Linked DNA regions of Homo sapiens: region 2 is linked to region 1. Evidence: fine-mapped expression QTL. Tissue or cell type: cerebellar hemisphere. Region 1 holds a variant in brackets; the other region holds the start of a gene. All regions are shown on one strand. Distances are between the middles of the regions.

What was found. PIP is the estimated chance that this variant, and not a neighbour inherited with it, causes the effect. A credible set is the group of variants that fine-mapping cannot tell apart.
Region 2: VILL starts here. The variant in region 1 is the best candidate, but not a certain one, in a credible set for the expression of VILL in cerebellar hemisphere (GTEx, PIP 0.81).

Annotation. Positions count from the first base shown.
Region 1 is chr3:37,717,893-37,723,118 of GRCh38, forward strand. All of the region lies in intron 18 of ITGA9 (integrin subunit alpha 9), which reads left to right. Among named protein-coding and RNA genes, the nearest start is that of ITGA9-AS1, 140 kb to the right of the region's middle. The variant C/T (reference allele first, on the strand shown) is at 2,418.
Region 2 is chr3:37,988,319-37,993,544 of GRCh38, forward strand. VILL (villin like) reads left to right here and starts at 2,468. Exons shown (of 20, transcript NM_015873.4): 1 at 2,468-2,511. RefSeq lists an enhancer at 4,480-4,774.

The DNA.
Region 1 (5,226 bases):
ATGGTAATAACAATGAGCTGTAAAATACGACCTGTGGGGTGGGAATGGGGACAGCCAATGCTTCTCTGGTAAAGGGAGGCCAGTTTCAGCCCCTGGTGCAACAGCACCCCCATGCATTCATCATGTGAGATGATAAGTGTCTTTCCTTGAACCAGTTCTTCTTCTTCCTCCTAGGCTGGGAACTTCTCCTTGGAGACAGCAGGAACTGTGTTACAAAGGCATATGGCCCAACAAAGGACACTGAGGCTACTCAGTAATTATTAAATGAGAGCATGAACAAAGGAATGTAAGATGTAACAGAAAACATACGTGTCTCACACATGAGAATTATTGTGTAGAAGCTGTTTCCCATTTGAGACAAAATAAGAAACACTTGTTGAACGAGTAGATGGGCTTCCTCTGGGAGCACAGCAGGTAGGCACCCATGTTGGAGCCAGCCATGGTCTGCAGAGTTCATTTCTCTGAGTCCCTGCCCCAGAGGCACATGACATAGGAGGCTCCAGACAACTGACTCAAAGACAGAGAGGACCATAATACCAGGGTTCCTCAGTCCTCACCAGCATAAGAATCCCAGAGAAGGCATTTTTTTTCTCACATACTCTAGGTCTCAATCTCTTAACTTCAAAAATGGCAGTGGCTACATTAGCTCTTGGGACCAGTGTTTCAAAGGCTAGTGTAGAACACTTGCCTCAGATGATTCAAGATCCAGGTTTCCTGACTCTGCTTCTGCTGTAAAGAATCCCACTCTGGAGGCTGGGGCCTGCAATCTGCATCTTTAACAAGCCCACCAGAGAATTTCAATGCAGTTTCACTTTTGAGGGTTTTTAACTTGATTGTCCATCAGAACCACCTGGGGAGCTTTCAGCAAATGCATGCCGACGCCACATGCATTAATTCTGCGGCCACACAGAGGGGCCTGCATCTGGGTCTTTTTTACAAAGCTTTTCATAGGATTGTCATCGTCACCTTTCCAGCACTGTTATGCAAATTGGAGAGACTCATGCCAAGGTGAAGGGCTTGGTGAGAGCAGCCAGGTCTTCTATGCAGTGATCAGCCTGCACAGCTGGGTGTGGCATCTCTGGCTCCCAGGTGGTTCCAGTGCACACCCCCAGTTAAGAACCAATGAAGAATGTTGCTTGTTAACAACCTTTGAAGGCTTTTTAGCAAAAACAAAGTGTCATATTGGGATTCATCTGTGGCAGTTTGCAGAACATATCAGGGGAGAGAGGTGTGTGCAAGGCATCCACCAGGAGGCCGTTTTGTGCTGGTCTAGGTAAGAGGAGATTGGAGCTGACCTGTTGAAGCAACAAAGAGAAAGGGAGGAAGGATCATCCTAGAAGTGGATACCAGTTCTTTAAGAAGAGTCCTGAGATGTACCCAGGAGTAGCAAAGTGGATGTGCCAACCCGAGGGAAGAGATTAGTAAGCTGCTGCCCCCTGAGACAGGGCTCCATGAGCTGACAGGTTGATCTGTGGAGATACACTCTGAAGGTGCTAGACTAGGAAGAGGTCCTCTCAGGCCCCATCCCTTCATCTTCAGCCAAAGGAAGTTCAGCAGTAGCTGCCCCTGGCCTCTGTTCTCAGTCCACAGCTCCACCAGCCCAGTTGCTTGTGCAGAGGGAGAGGATGTGGGAGAGATGCTGTCAACACCCTCCATGTCCCCTCCACCCACCCTGGAGGCCGCCTATGACAGTTCGCCATAGGCGAACTGTTTCTCTGGTTAGGAACTTTCTCTGGCTACAGGAGTGTGCTGCACCCGAGTCAGGAGGGCTGGAAGTGCAGGATAGTTAACGTCCCCAGTACAGTTTTCTACCAAGGAGAGACCGGTGAGATGGATAGATGCCCCAGCTTTCTCACCCGTTGATGACACACTTCACTACCCTCTCCTGGAGCTCCCTGAGATCACTGCCCATACAAACTAATTGCACCCCAATGCTTGTCCCAAAGTCTGCTCAGATAAGGGCCGTGTGAATAGACAGGTCTTCAGTTCCAGAAAAGTGTATACTCACACAGGAAATATCTCTCAAATAACATGGGCAGTGTATATGTTATTTTTCTGGAGGGCAGAGGGCATCATGAGGAAGGTGGTCTTCGTGGGGTGAATATCATGTTTCCTCCAGGGAGGGCTCAGTGACATGGAGCAGTGCTTCTCAAATGTCCATGTTCGCAGAGGTTAGCTTCTAACTCATCAGGTCTAGGGTGGGGCCTGAGAATCTGCATTTCTAACAGTGAGCATGTCCAGGGACCACACTTTGAGTAGCAAGACCTTGACAGCTTCAAGTTGCAAACCAGTTTTGAATGAGCAGAGTAGAAGGGGGTTTGCAGGTGAGAAGGAACTCTTCACCATGAGTACATTTCTATGAAGATTTCTGGCCAGGATTTTAGTAAGTACCTGAGCCCCTTCAAACATTTGACTCC[C/T]GCATAACCTTTTCATCCAAACACCATTCATGAGTTGTTTTTATGCCATGAGGTTAAATTCTTTCCTATCATTTCAGGGGAGGTCCCCACTTGTTGAGTTTTCCGTCAGCCTATAAGGCAAAGGAAAAGAGTGATAGAAAATAAAAATAACTTGATTCATTAGATGGAATTCAACTTGAATTCTTAGTTTGTTGACTAAGAATTTGCAGCCTCCGAGGAAATTTTTTTTAATTGAAGAAAAACTAATTTTTAAAAATCTGAAAATAATTCGTTTGTGACTATTTAACAGAAGGAAAAACTTCCTGAGTGAGCATCAAATACTTTAATTACTTCTTAGGCTTCAGAAGGGATGGCTTGCTAGTCTTTGTACTTTGGGCTTTCTGTTACGACTGGTTGACTTAGATTTATTTGTTTATTTAGCTTCTTAATTTCATATCCTGTGGTCCTGAAGAGGACAATCACCAGGATTTAGGGGAGTGTTTTTGTCTTTATTCACTTTGGAAAAATGTAAAGATTAGTCCTAAGCAGGGTTGATTCACCGCACTACAGAGGGACACGTTAGGAACGAGACAGCTTATTCAAGTGCTTTTGAATTTGTATTGGTTTTTTAAAATGTAAGATTATTTTTACTTATTTTAAATCTTTCAAAGCACTTTTTTCCTCAGGGCCAAGTGGACTCTTTGGGAGGAGACCTCGCCGTCTCCATTTGATCACATAATTGCTTCTGATGCCAGCCAGTCTGCAACTGCCAGTGATTGGCACAGGGTTATTTCATGTGCACTTCAATCAAATTTCTTTTCTTGCCTTTTTTTTTTTTTTTTTTTTTTTTTAAGAAAAAATCTCACTGTGGCACCCAGGCTGGAGTGCAGTGGTGCAATCATATCTCACTGCAACCTTCAATTCCTGGGCCTGTGATCTTCCCACCTCAACTCCCAAGTAGCTGGGACCACAGGTGTGTGCCACCACCTCTGGCTAATTTTTATTTTTGTTGAGACAGGGTCTTACTATGTTGTCTAGGCTGGCCTTGAACTCCTGGCCTCAAGTGAACCTCCTGCCTTGGCCTCCCAAAATGCCGGGATTACAGGTGTGAGCCATCCATACCTGGCCTCCAAATTTCACTACCTAACTTGGGAGAGGAATTTTGCATTAGCAGTTACATGGTTCATCTGCCTCAAACATTTGTTTTGACTCTAGCTTTTGCTTGTTTCACTTTTTTAAGCTTGGAAAGAACAAACTTAGAATAGTGTAGGCCTTGGCTTCCACATGGATGTTTTGACAAAATTTCAAGGAAGCAACTGGCTTTGTAGTGCTTTCTTTGTCCTGCTTCTCCAAATTCCCCAAGTGCATGGGTAATCACCTCTGGTTCCCTCGGAGTGTTCGTGGCCAGCTCCTTCCCAGCCTTGCCAGCCCATTGTCTGCATTTGGCATCTGCGCTGGAGTCACTGTGTGCTCCAGTTCCTTAAGGATACTTTTAGTTTATCTGATCTGTGCTCCACACCTCTTCAGACTCCATTTCCATGAATGTTTTGGGAGAGGTGAGGAAGAAACCTTTTCTGCTCATTGTTGCGCGTTCCCCACCCCAGGCCCCGTCTGATCTATTCTTACATCACAACTAAAAATATTCTTAAAAATGTGAATCAGATGGTATGACTCCCCTGCTCAGAACCCTCCAGTGCCTTCCCTCTGTACTTGGAACCAAGTCCAAACTCCTGATGAGCAGCAGGGCTCCGCATGGCCTGGCCTTTCATCTGTTGCTTCCCAAACGTGTGGCCTCTGGTTGGTTTCTGGAACTCACCATGCCTTTCCCCACACATGCTGGTTCTTCTGCCAGGGACACTCTTCACTCTCCCTTCATGTGCTTAGCCCCTTCTTAGCTTGCAGGTCTCAGCTAAATGGTACCTCCTCAAAAGGGCCTTCCCTCCACCTATACCAGGTATAATGCTGTTTGCCTCCTTCAGAATGCCTCTCACAGGCTGTGATTACTTTAAACAGATTCGTTGAGATATAGTTCAGATGCCATGCAATTAACCCTTTTAATGTATACAATTCAGTGGGTTTGAGTATATTTTCAGAGTTGTGCATCTATTGCCAGAGTCAATTTTAGAACATTTCATTACCTCAAAAAGAACCACCATACTTCTTAGCTGTCGTACCCCTTCCCCTATTTCCACCAGCCAAAGGCAACCAGAAATCTACTTTCTTTCTCTCTAGATTTGCCTATTCTGGACATTGTGTATAAGTGGAATCATTTATATGAAATGGAGCCAGTCCTTTGTGACTGGCTTCTGTCACTTAGCGTAATGTTTTCAGAGTTCATTTGTTTGTGGCATATGTCATACTTCATTCTTTTTCATGGCTGAATAATATTCCATTGTATGGATATACCACATTGTGTTTATTCATTCATCAGTTGCTGGACATTAGATTGTTTCCAGTTTTTGGCTATTACAAATTATGCTGCTATCAATATTTGTGTACACATTTTTGTGTGGGCTCATGTTTTTATTTCTCTTGGGTACATACCTAAGAGTGGGATTGCTGGGTTACATGGTAACTTATATTTCACTGTTAAGAAACTGCCAGGCTGCTTTTCAAAGCCACTATACTATTTTACATTCCCATCAGTAGTATGTAATGGTTCCAGTTTGTCCACATCTAGTCCAGCATTTGTTATTGTTTGTCTTTTTGATTGTAGCCATTCTAATGAGTAGGAAGTAGCATCTCTTTGTGGTTTTGATTTAGATTTCCCTGAAGGTTAATGATGTTGAGCATCTTTTCATGTGATTATTGGCCATCTGTATGTATTTTT
Region 2 (5,226 bases), 270 kb after region 1:
GGAAGGTTTGGGGAGGGGGGTGATGTGAGCGGGTTTATGGTTAAATTCTGAGGTTGAATTTTCCCTCTAGTTAGTCAAAATCATAGAAAATAGAATGGTGGTTGCAAGGGGCTGGGGGCAATGGGGAGTCTATGTTTAATGGGTGCAGAGTTGCAGAGTTTCCGTTTTGTAAGATGAAAGAGTTCTGGAAATGGTGGCAGTGGTTGCACAACAATATGAGTGTCCTTAACACCACAGAACCGTATACTTAAAAGTGGATACAGGCCGGGCGTGGTGGCTTACGCCTGTAATCCCAACACTTTGGGAGGCTGAGGCCGGTGGATCGCTGGAGGTCAGGAGTTCGCAACCAGCCTGACCAACATAGTGAAACCCCGTCTCTACCAAAAATACAAAATTAGCCGGGTGTGGTGGTGCATGCCTGTAATCCCAGCTACTCAGGGGACTGAGGCAGGAGAATCACTTGAACCCGGGAGGCGGAGGCTGCAGTGAGCCAAGATCATGCCATTGCACTCCAGCCTCGGCAACAAGAGCAAAACTCTGTCTCAAATAAATACATAAATAAAAAGGGGATACAATGGTAAATTTTAAGTATATTTTACTACAATTTTTTAAATCTTGTGAAAAAAAGATTTTTTATATTTTACCACAATTTTTTTAAATCTTAGGAAAAAAGATCCCTCTGGCTACTGTGGTAGGATGGTCGTAGCGGCCAGGCAGACCCAGAGACACAGAGGGAGGCTGGCTCCGGAGCAGGCAGGAGGCGTGAGAGGGAGGGCCAGGCCCAGGATCCACCATGAACCAGCTGCCGACGGGCCAGTGGCTTGCGGGAGAGAGAAATCAGGGCAACTCCAGGTTTGGGGCCTAAGCACCCTCTGGATGTTCACACTGAACGTGTTCCTGGGGCTCAGAGAGGGTAGATCTGGGAGGGGCCTGAGGCGATGTTAAATGTGAGACCAAACGTGCTGGGAGAGATGTGACAGACGGAAGATGGAGACTTAGGCCGGGGCAAGGTTCGGGGGAGTTGGGTCAGGGAGACACTGGCGTTTCCATGCTATTTGCAGCCTTCAGACTGGAACTGGGAAGGAAACTGGAAAACAAACAGGAGTGAAGGCCCAAGCTCTGCTCCTGCTGCCATTTAGAGGCCTGAAGGAGACAGGTGGAGTGAGAGGGGAAGGAACAATGGTGACTGAACTGACTGCCGCTTGGTTGACAGCGGGCATTGGTGACTTAGGAAAGAGCCATTGCCAGGGAATTCAAGAACAAACAGAGCGGGTGGGCTGAGGGGAGATGGGGGAAGAGTCGGTGGGAAGAAGTGAGGACACAGAGTCTTCCTGGGCACAGAGACAAAAAGGGACAGGGAAACGGGTATGCACAGGTACAGTGGACACACTGCCACTGTCACAGACAGGGTCCCTGTCCCAAGTGGGGATCAGACAGACATGCCAGGATACAGGCACACACATGAGGTCGGACAGGCAATGGCACACATGGGGACGAGCCAAATGCCTGTGACACAGGCATCCCTTCACACACAGGGACCCTGCATTGTGTCTGTTAAACACAGTCACACACTAGCTGTAGGTCTTGCTGGACACAGACTGCCCCCGAGTCCCCAAGTCCCCAGACCCCTGTAACAGAGACCTTTGTGGGGTGAAGACTGAACACAGGGAGAGGGTCTTGGGCAGTGGGCAGGCTTTAGCAGCGTGGCTTTGATGGGATGGCCCACGCTGGCTGGGCCTTGGCTGGGACTGAGGCCCTAAGCCGCCAAGAGGAGGTTGTGCCCCTGGAGTTTCTGGAAGGCTCTGTTTGCAGCCCCTCCACCCCACAGTGAGAGAGAGAGAGTGGCAGTGGAGTGGCAGCTGAGGTGAGGGAGAGGTGTCTTCGCTGCAAGAGCTGGACTGGCCTCTCCCATGATGGGTATCAGGGTTCCCTGAGGAGGGCTGTGCCAGGCAGTGAGCTCACATTTGGGTAGGGACAGCAGAAATATCTAGAGGGAGCCCTGACCACCTTCCCCTCCTGAAGTGAGCTGGGTCTCACAGAGCCTGACCCCACAGCCCCCAGCCTTGGTCCTACTTCCTCCTAAAGTTTGCTGGAGTGGCCTGGCCCTCTTGGTCCAGGCGGAGCCCACCACTCCGGGTGAGGGATCAGGGGCCCATCTAGTACTCCAGAGAAGGAAATCCCAGTATCTTCCACACCCCACCTCTTAGCCCAGTCCAGGCCTCCATCCCCTGCTCTCTCTGGCCACTGGTACCCAGGCAGTGAGACCTGGGAGACTTAACCATAGCCCTGGGGAGGGCGCTGGTCCCGACGGCTTGCTCGATATTTGTTGACTGGCTGACTAAGTGAATGCCTAGCCCGCTGAGCACTGTGTGGTGGGGTGTGTCCTGCAGGGCAGGAGCTAGGATTGAGTTACAGTGGTGGGGACCAGGAGTAGGGAGGCAGAGACTGGCCCCGTGCCAGGCCTAGCACTGCCCACAGGCAGGGCGAAGGCGCGGGAGCAGTTTCCAGCAGGTAGGCCTGGGCAGAGAGTTGGGGGGCGGGGGTTTCCAGGGAACCAGTGGGGCAGAGTGGGCTATTCAAGTCAAGGGCATAGAGCATAGGGTCCCAGGGCTCAGGGCCACAGAGCCTCCGCGGCAGAATTGGGAGGCGGCAGCAGCCCAGCAGGTGAAAACACTGATGGGGCAGGGCAGCTGTGGCCGGCAGCCCAAGGGGAAGAAAGTGGCAGATTTTGTAGATGGGCAGGGAAGTCCGTGGCCCACAAATTCAGTGTGCCTGCCCCCAACCCTGGCCCCATCCTCCTTTCCCCTCACTCTAGAGGGCGGCACCACTCCCTGCTCCATGGAAACTGAGCAAGGTAATCTCGGGCTCCCTTCAAAGGTACCCACAAAAGAAGGAAGGGCTCCTGTAGGGAGAGAAAGAGGCACTGGAGGAGGGAGAAAGCGAGGAGAGAGGAGGCACCCAGGGACACGAGGGGCAGGGGGAGAGAAGAGGGGGTGTGTGAAGCGGGTAGGGAGTGCCCCGGGAAAGAGAGGGGAGCCTGGGGAAGAGAAGGAAAGACCTGGGGAGGAGGGTGGGGAGGGAGAGAGGGAGGGGTGTAGGGGAAGACAGGGAACCAGGAAAGGAGGAGGTGCCTGGGGAGGAAAAATGGGAGAAAAAGGGAAGGATCCCAGGGGAGAGGGGAAATCAGAGGGGAGAAAGAAGAACCAGGGGGAGGCAGGGGCACCCAGTGGGGACAGAGGGAAACCCTGGAAAAGCGGAGGCGTGGGGCATGGGGAGAGAAAGGGAAACCAGGGAAGGAATTGGGCATCCGGAAGAGAAAGGGGCCCTGAGTGGAGGAAGTGCACCCCCAGGGAAGAGAAGGAGGGCTTCTAGGAGAAGGGAGAGGACCAGGGATAGGAGGGTTCCCACTTGGGAAGGTGGTGAAAGGGAGTTCCCCAGAGGAAAGAGGGCAGGAGGGTTTGGGAGGCTGGAGGGGGCACTGTGGGGGGTTCCCCTGAGGAAAGAGGGCAGGAGGGCTTGGGAGGCTGGAGGTGGCACTGTGGGGAGGGAGGAGGCCCCCAATCTTTGAGCACCCATTCCTCCCTGGAGTCCAGGTGAAAGAGAATGAACACAGGTGCCATGCGAGTGCGACCTCAGCCCTGGCAGCTGAGGGCTTGGCTCTACGGGCTGGGGCTGGATATCAGACGGGCTCCCGGACCCCTGGGGGCGATGCTGCCTCTCCCAGTGACACCAGCCGAGTCCCAACTTTTTGGCTGCCAGTTTGACTTTCCAGTCCCCCATGTGCCCTGGTTGACACTGTTCTGAGGCCATCCAGTAGTCTTTCTGGCACTCTGTCACCATGTTGTACTCTTCCATGAGCTACAGCTCACAGTTTCTGTCTGCACCTCTGGTCACTGCCTGCCTGGGCCTCTGGTAACTGTCACTGGTCACTATTTCTGCCTATTACTCAGTGTCCTTCTACGGGGCCACCACTGGTGGACATCCTGCTTGTCACCCAATGTCCTCACGTTTTCTGTTGCTTGAGATCACCTTTTCATGGCCACTATGTCTGCCTGTCACTCATGTCATTGTCACACCAACAGGCCATCAACTGTGGCAACAGTTCTTGGGGCAATTAGGGTGCACGGACGGCTCCCTTCTCTATTCATTTTCACTCAGTCCAGTCGCAGGGCAGCACACTTCACTCATTCAACAAGTACTTACTGAGTACCTGCTGGGGGCCGGGCAGCTGGGATCCCACAGTAAACAACAAGACAAACCCCTGCCTTCAGGAATCTGCTGCTCTGGTGAGGGAGACCATAGCCAACAACCATCCTATGGTTTCCATAGGGTGTCGGGAGGAGCTGTGAGCTGTGACGGACCCAGCTCTAACCCCCTAGAAGGACAGCCCACTCTGCCCCTGCTCCCCTGCCCCACAGCCTCCTCCGCTCCCACATTTCTTTGGCTACATGTTGGGTGTTGCCACAGTGTACTGTGAACTCACCAGGGCCAAACCAGGGGCCCTGACAAAGGTGTAAGGAATGTGAGCCACTCTATGACACCTATTGTGCCACACCTGATTCTGTAACTCTGTCCCCTCACCTTGTTCTGCCTGGAGCCAAGGGTGTTCCTGCTATTGATAAGACACAGTGGGAGTGGAGGGGGAGGAGGGAAGGACTAACACACCAGGGTCACCCTGAGTGAGAGATTCAGAAAGAAGTGACTTTTGGACCAAACCTCACACACAGGTTTCTGAAGGAGTGGTGCAGGGAAGCCTCAGGTAATTGAATATGAAGTGCCAAGACATAACAAAATCGACAGAAGTGAGGGTCCCTTCCTTCCCCCAGGTACTTCTCATTCCATGTCACTGTCATTCACTGCCCTCTCATTCTCTCCCTCTCTGCACGCGCAGAACCACAGAGCACAGACTCGAGCAAGCTAAATCGCTATTTGCAGAGCCTGTGGCTGTTTGCAGAGCCTGTGTTTATACAGAGTTCAGCTCTGTTTCAAGAATTTGTCAGCTGAAGCGGGAAGATCACTTGAACCCAGAAGGTGGAGGTTGCAGTGAAGTGTGTTCGAATCATGCACTGCAGGCTAGGGTGGCAGAGCAAGACCCTGTCTCGAAAAAACTGGAAAAAAAAATTGTCAAGTGTTTATGCCTAATCTGCCCAACCCACTCATATCAGCTGAGCCTGTCACTTGCTGCAGAATCTGAGTCTTCATAGTCTGTGTGCTGACATTTGTGTG